Linked DNA regions of Homo sapiens. The protein of the gene in region 1 purifies or fractionates together with the protein of each later gene. This does not show direct contact. Each region holds a gene or a part of one and is shown in the gene's direction. Other genes may lie near its edges.

Region 1 (3,661 bases):
TTAACTGTTTGTCTCATCTGTGAGTACTGACAGTTTTGATTCTTCCCCTCCATCTCTTATCATTTTTTATTTTTTTTAAACCGCACCAAGTATGTGAACCCAGTTTTTGTTTTGCCTTTCTGTGTTTGCCAAGACTACTAGTAAAATGTTGAAGAGAAGGTACTTTCAGGGTTGCATCATAATTAGTAGGTTTGCCGTAGGTTTTTGATCAGGTTAAGAAAATTGTCTTCTATTCCTATTTTGTTAGACCTTCATATTTGATCACGGATGTAAAATTTTTTCAAATATTTTTTCTTCATCAGAGATGGTCATGATTTTTCTCCTTTGATCTGTTAATGTGATGAATTATGTGAATTGGTTTTCCAATATTAAAACAACTTTGCACTCCTTAGATAATTAAATTCAGCATAGTCTTCATGTATTGACTATTGTATTATTTGATGAAATGAGCTGGTCAATATTTTGTTTTAGATGTTTGTGACAATATTAATGAGAGTGGTCTATAATTTCCCTTTCTCAAACTTTCCTTACTGTATTTTGTATCAAGATTATGCCTCATGAAATAAATTACGAAGTATTCCTTTGTTTTTTACTTCTCTTGGAGAGTTTGTGTAATACTGGGATTCTTTCTACAGGATTCTGAAGAACTTTCTGGGCTAGCATGTAACTGTGCAAATTTTAAACTATTGATTTAATTTACTTAATGTTTATAGACCAGTTAGGTTTCCCTTCTTTTTTATTTACAAAAAGAAAAAATGGTTTCTTCAAGATTTCCTCTTATCCTTCATACATCTATAGTATCTGCATGATTATTCTGTTTTTTATTCTTTACATTGGTCATTTCTGCTTTCTCTCTCTCTCTCTTTTTTTTAACCATTCTCACCAGATGTCTTACAATATTATCAGTCTTCTCAAATAAACAACTTTTGGTTTTGTTGATTGTTTCTACTTAATTTCTTTCTTTCTTTCTTATTTCTCAGTTTATTTTGTTCATTTTCTAACTTCTTAATTTTTGTACTTCTTAATTTTCAGCCCTTCCTCTGTTCTTACATTAAAAATTTAAGACTATAAATTTTGAATTTTCTTATAAGTTATACTTTAGCTTGACACACACACACACACACACACACACACACACACACATACAATGTTCTTATATTGTTCTCATCATCTGAGTTCTAAATATTTTCTGATTTCTATTATGATTTTTTCTTTAAGCTAGGCCTGTGTATATCTTAATTTTCAATCTTGGGATTTCGAGGTTACTTTTTGTTGTTTGTATCTAACTTGACTGCTCTGTGATCAGAAAATGTCAACACTATGATACCAGTGCTTTGAAATGTCTTAGGACTTGCTGTACAGCCTGGAACTTAGCCAGTTTTTATAAATGTTCCACATTGCTTCAAAACAACACATTCTGCATTTGTTATGTTCATTGTTCCATATATGTCTATTGAATAAAGCTAATTTATTGTATATATTAGTTTGCTAAGGCAGCCATAACAAAGTACTACAAACTGGGGGTTTAAACAACAGAAATTTATTCTCTCACAGTTCTGGAGGTCAGAAGTCAGAGATCAAGGTAGCAGGGTTGGTTTCTTCTGACACCCCTCTTCTTGTTTTGTAGCTGTTCATCTCCCTATGATTTCACATGGTGTTTCCTCTGTGTCCAAATCTCTTCTTGTAAGGACACCAGTCCTGTTGGATTAGGGCCCACTCTAGTGACTTCCTTCTAACTTAATTACCTCTTTAAAGACCCTATCTCCAAATATGATCACATTGTAAGGTACTAGGAATTAGGACTTCAACATACGAATTTTGGGGAGACACAATTCTGTCCATAACATAGTCCTTTTCAAATTCTACATAAGATTTCCTTGCTTGATTTCATGAGTTAGGTGCTGAAAGCAGTCAAATTTTCCACAGTGATGATGAATTTTTCTATTTCTCTATAAAGTTCTTTCGATTTTTGATTTATGATTTTGATTTTGAGGTTATGTTATTAGTATATATAAGTTTAGAATATTTACAGCTACTTGGTGAATTAAACATTTTATTATTATGGAGTCACTTCTAGCCCCAGAAATGCTTTTGTCTTATATCTTATTTTGTCCATTAAAATATACTTACATTAGCTTTCTTCCCACTAGTGTTTGTGTGGTAAATATGTTTTCATCATTTTAGTCTCTATTTTTATCCTTATTTTTAAATGTAGCTTGGGTTTTTAAAATTCAGTCTGACAATATTTTTCTTTTAAATAGAGTACTATATCCATTGGTATTTATTATCTTCAATATAATGTACTTTGATCTTTTTCTACTAACCTACTTTTCGTGAGAGGCAATAGAGAAATAGTCTTGAAGAGAACAGACCTCTGAGAAACACTGCCTTGGTTTGAATATCAGCTCTATTGCTCACTACCCGTGTAACCTTGGCCTAGTTACACAGTCTGTGCCCATTTTCTTATTTGTAAAATGGTTATAATAACAACCCTACCTCATAGCATTATTATAACTATTGAGTGAGTTAATATACATAAAGTGCTAAGAACACTGCTGGACATGTAATAAGATATATACATATACCTACTTTCTGGTAATTTTTTTATCATTATATTTATCACTTTAAGTTGACATGTTTTTCCTGTTTCTTTTTTTTTTTTTCTTTTAAATTGTCAGAGTGTCTTTTCTTATTTGATTTCCTTCTGTCCTCTGATTTGGAAATTATATTCTCTTTTCTGTTCTTTTGGAATTACCCTGAAAATTTATCAAATGTACTTAATTTGTCAAAGTTTAAAGTCAATTCTTATCTTTACCCTCCTCTTGAACAATACAAGAATTTTGTAACACGTTAACCCTGATCAACCTATTTCTGACTTATACATTATTTTTATATTTTAGATTTTTCTCAATTTTAAGCCTCGTAAATTTTTATTATTGCTTTGTATATTCAATAATTATTTGGTTTTACTGACATATTTTCTGGGTTTTTTTTTCAATTATTTTCTTTTTACAGCTCAATTCTTTCATCTGATAACTGTTTCTGCCTGAATTATATCTCTAAATTGGGTCTGCAGTTAGAAAAATTTGTTTTTACTGACTGAAAATATCTTTATCATGCTCTTTTAAAAAAGAAATGTAACTTATTAAGAGGGTTTGTCAAAAAATATAGGTTGATGTCTTCTTTCAGTATATTGGAGACATAGTTTCAATATGTTTTAGCTTCACAGTTTTTTTAGCTCCATAGTTTTAGCTTCCATATTTGCTATTGAGAAGTAAGATTGCTTTTAATATCCTTGTCTTTTCTTTTTTTTTGAGACGGAGTTTCGCTCTTGTCACCCAGGCTGGAGTGCAGTGGCACAATCTTGGCTCACTGCAACCTCCACCTCCTGGGTTCAAGCGATTCTCCTGCCCCAGCCTCCCAAATAGCTGGGCTTACAGGCACCTGCCACCAGGCCTGGCTAATCTTTTTCTGTACTTTTAGTAGAGACGGGGTTTCACCACATTGGCCAGGCTGGTTTTGAACTCCTGACCTCAGGTGATCTGCCTGCCTCGGCCTCCCAAAGTGCTGGGATTACAGGCGTGAGCCACTGCACCCAGCCCAAAATCTTTATCTTTTGTTCTGCAATGTGACTAAGATGTTTTAAATATGATTTTTTTGT
Region 2 (3,661 bases), on another chromosome or scaffold:
TTACAGGTGTGAGCCACCACGCCTGGCCTGAATCAAATTATCTTTGATATCATTAGAGGTCTTACATTCTACTGGCAGTTGTTTGAGTGCTAAATTGAAGATCTTTTACTTTTTATAAAATGCCTCTTTAGTCTTACTTTCTACCAGTTTCTAAAACTACAATAAATTTTTTAACCAACTCTCCACCTAAAAGTGTTTTCTTTTTTGTATACAAATCAAACTTTGATAGACAAGCTTAGTTGCTGTTAAAAAATGGATTAAAATTTTTTTACCGTGTTAAAGGGCATAAACTTTGAGCTATAATCTGAATAAATTCCAGAGATCCAGTATACAGCATGACTATAATACTGTATACTTGAAATTTGTTAAGAGACTGGATCTTCAGTGTTCTCACCAAAAACAAATAAATATGTGAGATGGATAGTTATTAATATGATGGGTGAGAATCATTTCATTATGTGAGGTGCAGTAAAGTGAAACACAATAAAATGAGGTATGCCTGAGGTCAGGCACGGTGACTCACACCTTTAATCCCAGCACTTTGGGAGGCTGAGGCGGGTGGACCACCTGAGGTCGGGAGTTGGAGACCAGCCTGACTAACATGGAGAAACCCCATCTCTACTAAAAATACAAAATTAGCCAGGTGTGGTGACACATGCCTGTAATCCCAGCTACCTGGGAGACTGACGCAGGACAATTGCTTGAACCTGGGAGGCAGAGGTTACGGTGAGCCAAGATTGCGCCACTGCACTCCAACCTCGGCAACAAAAGCGAAACTCCGTCTCAAAAAACGATATGCCTGTATGTTAAAACATCGCATTGTACACCATATACATATATGTATATATATAGTTTGTCAGTCATGCGTCAAGTTTTGTTGTTGCTGGACAGTAATTCTGATTTTAGGTGGGTGATTTTAAATTTTTTTTTTTTGACTAAGGAAACTTCTTATCAAATTAACTATTTGCAAATGTGTTCTTTTTAAATGATACGTGCGTGTGTGTGTGTATATATATATAAAACTCGTTTTCCACTTGCAACAAATTACAGTTGTCATTTAACTGACAACTGTTAAATGACAATTTGAAAAGCAAGATACTGCTTTTCATTCTTTACTGTTTTGGTTGTAAGTACTAGCTTTGGTCACTACTGTACATATGGAAACTAAATTTATTTTTAAATCTAGCCTTGGTACTTGATTCTGCATCAGTAGTAAGCCTTTATTTTAAAATTAAAACTTGTCCATGCTACTTTTAAAAATGAAAATAATTAGGGACCAGGTGCAGTGGCTCATGCTTGGAATCCTAGTGCTTTGGGAGGCCGAGGTGGGAGGATTTCTTGGACAACATAGTAAGATCCTGTGCCCCCCCCAAAATTATTTTAATTTTAAAAAAGGAAAGTAATGAATGTAATTATATTAAAATATTTTGATTTACGTTGAAGTATCACTGTAGCTTACCTGCATATTTTTGAAAAACATAGTACATCAGTGTGTAGAAAAAAATTATTTGAACTAAATCAGTTTGTTGACAATGGTGTATTTATATACAATGACTAAATCAGTGGTGTATTTATGTGTAATACTAGAAACTGCACATGTCAACAACCCCACTACAACCTGATAATAAATATCTTACATGATGTGACAGTTAACGTAAAGTGTAGTCTTACCAAAGTAACGAAATGTTTAATGGGAACATATTTTAAAATGCATCAATACTTAAAATAATTAATTGTAGTAGTCATAGTATGTCAGTTTTTAATAATCTTGGGAGTGGCTACTATATTGTACGGTGCAGGTCTTATTGTCATTTTCTCGACTTTGGCAGAAATTGATAAAGAAGGTGTGATTGAACCAGACACTGATGCTCCTCAAGAAATGGGAGATGAAAATGCGGAGGTAAGTTCGGTGACTTGATTTCCTGCTTGTTCTAAGAAATGTGAAAGGTCCTGCTGTTGCAATGATTTTATGACACGATTCTTCCAGGAAAAGCGCATAGTAAATCTTTCTCTGACTTCAGGCGTTTTAGGCAAGCATTGTATTTTACTACTTAAAATACTAATGAAAATAAATACTGTTACTTTCTGTTTTATCTGTTTTTTAAGTTTGCATCTGGTGTGACTGCTTGCACTGTAACGCAGAATTCACTTAAAATACATACCTATTAGTGGAGTTGCTCTTGATGGAATATCTAATGCCAAATTGTATTACAGAATGGTTTGTCATAACAGGCCCTCAAGGGAGTGAAAATTGGTTCTTGGGAGGAGGGCTTAAAAAAAATTCTATATATTACAATGGTTAGTGGTCCTCCAAAGACTCATAGAATATTAATATGTAGTGTATCTGTGGTATTAAAATTGGGGATATGGAAATGAGGAAAAGATGTCTAAAAAGGCTCCTTAGTGTCTGATAAAAATTTGAGAAACACTCTAATATAGTAATAGCAGTTTTAAAAGATTGGTTTTTATCCTCAAAACTTGATATTATCAGATTTCATCTTTGCCAAGTATTGTGGGAAATGGTATCTTTTTGTGGCTTTTAATTTGCATTTTCCTGGCCAGACAGGGTGGCTCACGCCTGTAATCCCAGCACTTTGGGAGGCCGAGGTGGGTGGATCATCTAAGGTCAGGAGTTTGAGACCAGCCTGGCCAACATGGTGAAACCCCGTCTCTACTAATAATACAAAAATAAGCCAGGCATGATGGTGCACGCCTGTAATCCCAGCTACTTGGGAGGCTGAGGCAGGAGAATCACTTGAACCCAGGAGGCAGAGGTTGCAGTGAGGTGAGATCGCACCCCTGCACTCCAGCCTGAGCGACAGAGCAAAACTCTATTTAAAAAAAAAAAAAAAAATGCATTTTCCTGATTCCTAATGAGGCTGAGCATATTTAAATGTTTATTGGCTGTTCACTGGCATTTGCGAACTCCTGTTTAAACTTTTTCCACTTTTTGCTGGATCTTTTTCTTACTGCTTTGTATTTCATTTCAATATTCTGGATGCTAATAATTTGTTGCTAGTGCTGCATATATTTTCTGCTAGTTTGTGACTCATCTTCACTCATCTTTCTTCATGTTGTTTCAAAAATAGTATCTTTTAATGCAGATATTTTCTGCTTTATTACTTTGAGGTTATAATTGCTGTAGTGCATTGCTTTTTCTCTTCTGAACATTTTATACACTCACCTTTCACCTTTAATCTACCGGTCCCACCAAAACTAAAATACACTGTTTCTGAATATTGTGGGTCTGTTTCAGGAGTTTATTGTTCTGCTTGTCTATTTTTTTTCTGTTCACTAATGCCACATCGTCTGATACTAAGTCTTGTTATTTTGTAGAACAAGGACCCCCAAAACTTTTTAGTCTTTTGGCTGTTCTTGGCTTTTTGTTTTTCCAAGTAAATTTTAGAAATAGGTTGATCAAGTCTCCCCGCTTCCATTGGTTTTTTTCCCCTTTGTTAGAATTGTGTTAAATCTAAATCAAGTTCGGGAAAAGATATATCTCCTCACCATTGAGATAAACTATCCATAAATAATGTTATCTGCCCAATTTTTAGGTGTTTTTAAAATATTTTAATAACTTACTAACGTGTTCCCCATAAGTCTTGTGCTTTGTTTTTTTGAGACAGTGTCTCACTCTTCCATCCAGGCTGGAGTGTAGTGG
Region 3 (3,245 bases), on another chromosome or scaffold:
TCCTACAACTAATTACTAAAACTGCTATTTCTAACTCTTCATGAAAGCATTACCTTTGGAAAGTTAAACTTTTTTTTTCCTTTCATCACCGTCTTTGAAACAAATTATTTTCCAATTCATAAGAACTTTGGTAAAAAAAAAAATAAAAGGAAATTATATGTTTTTCTTTGGACATTCATTGGAAGGCTTGTTGAAGACATGATCCCCCAGAAGCCTTAGTGACCCAGATCTCAACCAGAGACTCAAGATAGCCTCAAATACAGTGAAAGATTATGTATCCAAAAAAAAAAAAAAAAAAAAAAGAAAAGGAGCAGGGAAGGACAGTTCTAGTTAAAGCCAAATGGATGTGAGTCTGACAAGGGTGTCTTTGATTTATATTTCCTAACTGCAAATTACACAGAAAGTGAGAATGGGGAATAACTTTTATTAAGTATTTATGTGCCAGGCGGTTAGTGTGGCCTTCATGTTATTACATTTAATCCTCAAATTTCTACAAAGGAATAATTTTGCATGATTTTATGATTGACGGAGCATTTTCAAATCTCCTCTAATTCTCATAACATCTCTGTGAGGAAGGAATTTTTATCCTTATTTTACAGATGAGGAAGCTGTTTGGAGATAATTTAAGTGACTTGCCTGGGGAATCTAGCCAGTAGTAGAGTACTGATTAATCAGGTGCTGACATCTGCTCTGCTTTGTGTATGTAATTCAGCAGTGCTTCAAAGATCCAAGAAGCTGTAGCAGATCTCAATACACTCTCCTATAAAATTAGTGAATAATCACCATGACAAAATTGGTATGGCGGAACAGTCATTATACATTATTTAGACTCATTCCTTCTTCCAGTGCCCTTATGATTATTTCCTACCTTTACCATTGATCTTAAACTGTGCAGGCTAAAAAGAGGAACCAGAACTCCCTTAAGCACTTTTAAGACTATTTAAAAAATAAAGTTTTGTTGGCATTGAAGAGTAAGCTGCTTAAGGGACTGAATGAAAAGATAGTACCCTTTGTGGCTGTATGAAGAGAGAAACTGAATTTCTATCCAAGAGACCTTAATTTAGTTTATTAGGGAATTATCTTCCCCAAAAGTACAAGTAATTTTGCACTGCAGGAGAAGGATAAGTAGATTTGATTTACATCACATTTTATACACACCTTTCAAAAGGAAGAAATCTGTTTCATAAATAGTAGTAATCTATGCTTAAACTTAACATTTAATGTTGACTTCTTACAACAGCCTTGAAAATTATTTGTAATTTTGATCATGATGTTGGAAAGCTTGTAATAAAGAATATCTTTCTCTTCTGCATCCTTTTATCCTCAAACTTAGCATGGATTCACATGCTGAGTAAATGTTTGGTTAACTAGTGAACATTTTAGATAGTTGTGTCAAAAATAAGGGTTAGGGATAGGTAAAACCAGTAATTTACTGTTTTTTACAGAAGACATCTCAGCATTTCTTTGGCATTTTTGCACAAATAAATGACTATATATTCACCTTGGCCATTTTTTTTTTTAAGTAGCCCTATGAGCTGCTCATTCTTTTTCATATACAGTGGAAGTATACAGATGTTATCCATTTTACAAATTGTTGGATCGGAATTTGACAGAATTGGGACTGTGGAACCTGGGTCACTTGAATTTTCTATATTTTGTATGGCCAAATCAGGAACCAGACAGTCTCCATAGTCTCCTTTGTTTTTATGGAAAATTGCCATATTCACATATTTCATTTATCCTAATGTATTGTCATCCAAAATGAAAGAGGTCTTTCTTGAAGGTGCTTTAAAGACATCACTACATGTATTCAATTACTGATTTAAATATTCCCAGAATTATTTTTTACCTTTCTCTTTTTCCTCTCAAACACAAAATTTTAGTAGTACCTCCCTCTATTTCTTCACTGATTTTTCATCTGTTTTCATTGTTATTTCCACTATAGAACTTCTACTTTATACTAGCGGGGAAAATTTTTTTATTTAGAATTTTAATATTTGAATTTTGTTTATGTATCACATACTGTGCTACAGTTAGCCTCAATGAAGATTCTATTTTGAACTAGACATCCTGTCAATAGTTTGTCAAGTAACTTCATTGCTTCCTTTGATAGCAATTCAGTGAAATTTTTTCCCAAGTGATATTTTCCCCCAACTTTTGTGAGTTTGATAAATAGGATGAGTCTTTTATATTGGAAATACTGTGAATGGAAAATTGCCAAATCCCTTCTTAGTATATTTTAAGCACCCTACAACACTTTACCTCCCTGCCTTTAGTGGTATTTAAACATATGGCCAAGTTAGTATTTGGGTTTGATTCCTTTGGTGAAGATTAAGGCATCAAAACATTTCTTAAAATGTTTGAGTACAAGGCTAAGTTATAATGTCAACTTTCAAAGACTATGTTGTGATTCGGTTTGAATATGCTGAAGTGAGCAATTATGATTTGCCCAAGTGCAATACAACAAATCTATAATGTATATTTCACATTTTCTACTTGAACACATTCATGTATATATTTTGTTAAACTTCATATGTATTTAAAAAGAATCATGAACTGTATCAAAATTCTTTCAATAAAATTTCTATTTAAAAATCTCTACCTGAATTGTGTCTTATCAGTTTGACGAACTGAAACAAACACTGTGAATCTTACAGGTATTGGAATAGATACTAGAGGACTTAAGGAATGAAAGGCAAAGAATGATTCTCAGAGCCAAGAAACAGCAGAACTTACTAGGAGAGAAGAGATGCTAGGAGGTTGGAAGTATCTTTACATTGTGAACAGCCTCATTGTGGCTCTTAGTCAGCATCTGACCTCATAAACATGTCTCGAAGTATTTACTTCCAGATATTTCCATCACTCCCAAGTTGTTCTCTCATCTCAGTTTCTATGGATGACTTTGTCTTATATGACGTGAAGACCAAAACATCTGATGTGAGCCTCCATTATCCTTCCAAATTTTTCCCTCTGATTAGATGCAATTCTTTTTTAAAATAACTTCTTCCACAGTATCCCATGCACCACTCATGTCACCTTCCTTCTCAAAGGTATTCTTACCAAAGCAGCTTCTTTACTATCATCAATCTCTGCCATACTTCAAGGCTTTATCCTCAGCATGTCTGCTGTCAGATTCCTTGTATGTGGTCTACATTTGCTGCTTCTACCTCCTTTCTAACCATTTCCATAGCTCCTAGTAGTATAGCTTCACTCCTCCCTATTTCGTAGAAGTTGCTTCAAGGCCA

What was found.
Region 2: the proteins of DNAJC5B (region 1) and ST13 purify together in Homo sapiens (affinity purification with mass spectrometry, with the first as the bait; one large-scale study listed by BioGRID). This does not show direct contact.
Region 3: the proteins of DNAJC5B (region 1) and SLC30A7 purify together in Homo sapiens (affinity purification with mass spectrometry; one large-scale study listed by BioGRID and IntAct). This does not show direct contact.

What each region holds. Positions count from the first base shown.
Region 1 is NC_000008.11:66,094,553-66,098,213, forward strand, and holds part of DNAJC5B (dnaJ homolog subfamily C member 5B), read left to right. Parts: intron 1-3,661.
Region 2 is NC_000022.11:40,843,078-40,846,738, reverse strand, and holds part of ST13 (hsc70-interacting protein), read left to right. Parts: intron 1-1,829; coding exon 1,830-1,900; intron 1,901-3,661. UniProt on the Homo sapiens protein: One HIP oligomer binds the ATPase domains of at least two HSC70 molecules dependent on activation of the HSC70 ATPase by HSP40. Stabilizes the ADP state of HSC70 that has a high affinity for substrate protein.
Region 3 is NC_000001.11:100,979,157-100,982,401, forward strand, and holds the end of SLC30A7 (zinc transporter 7), read left to right. Parts: 3' UTR 1-2,601; downstream 2,602-3,245. UniProt on the Homo sapiens protein: Zinc ion transporter mediating zinc entry from the cytosol into the lumen of organelles along the secretory pathway.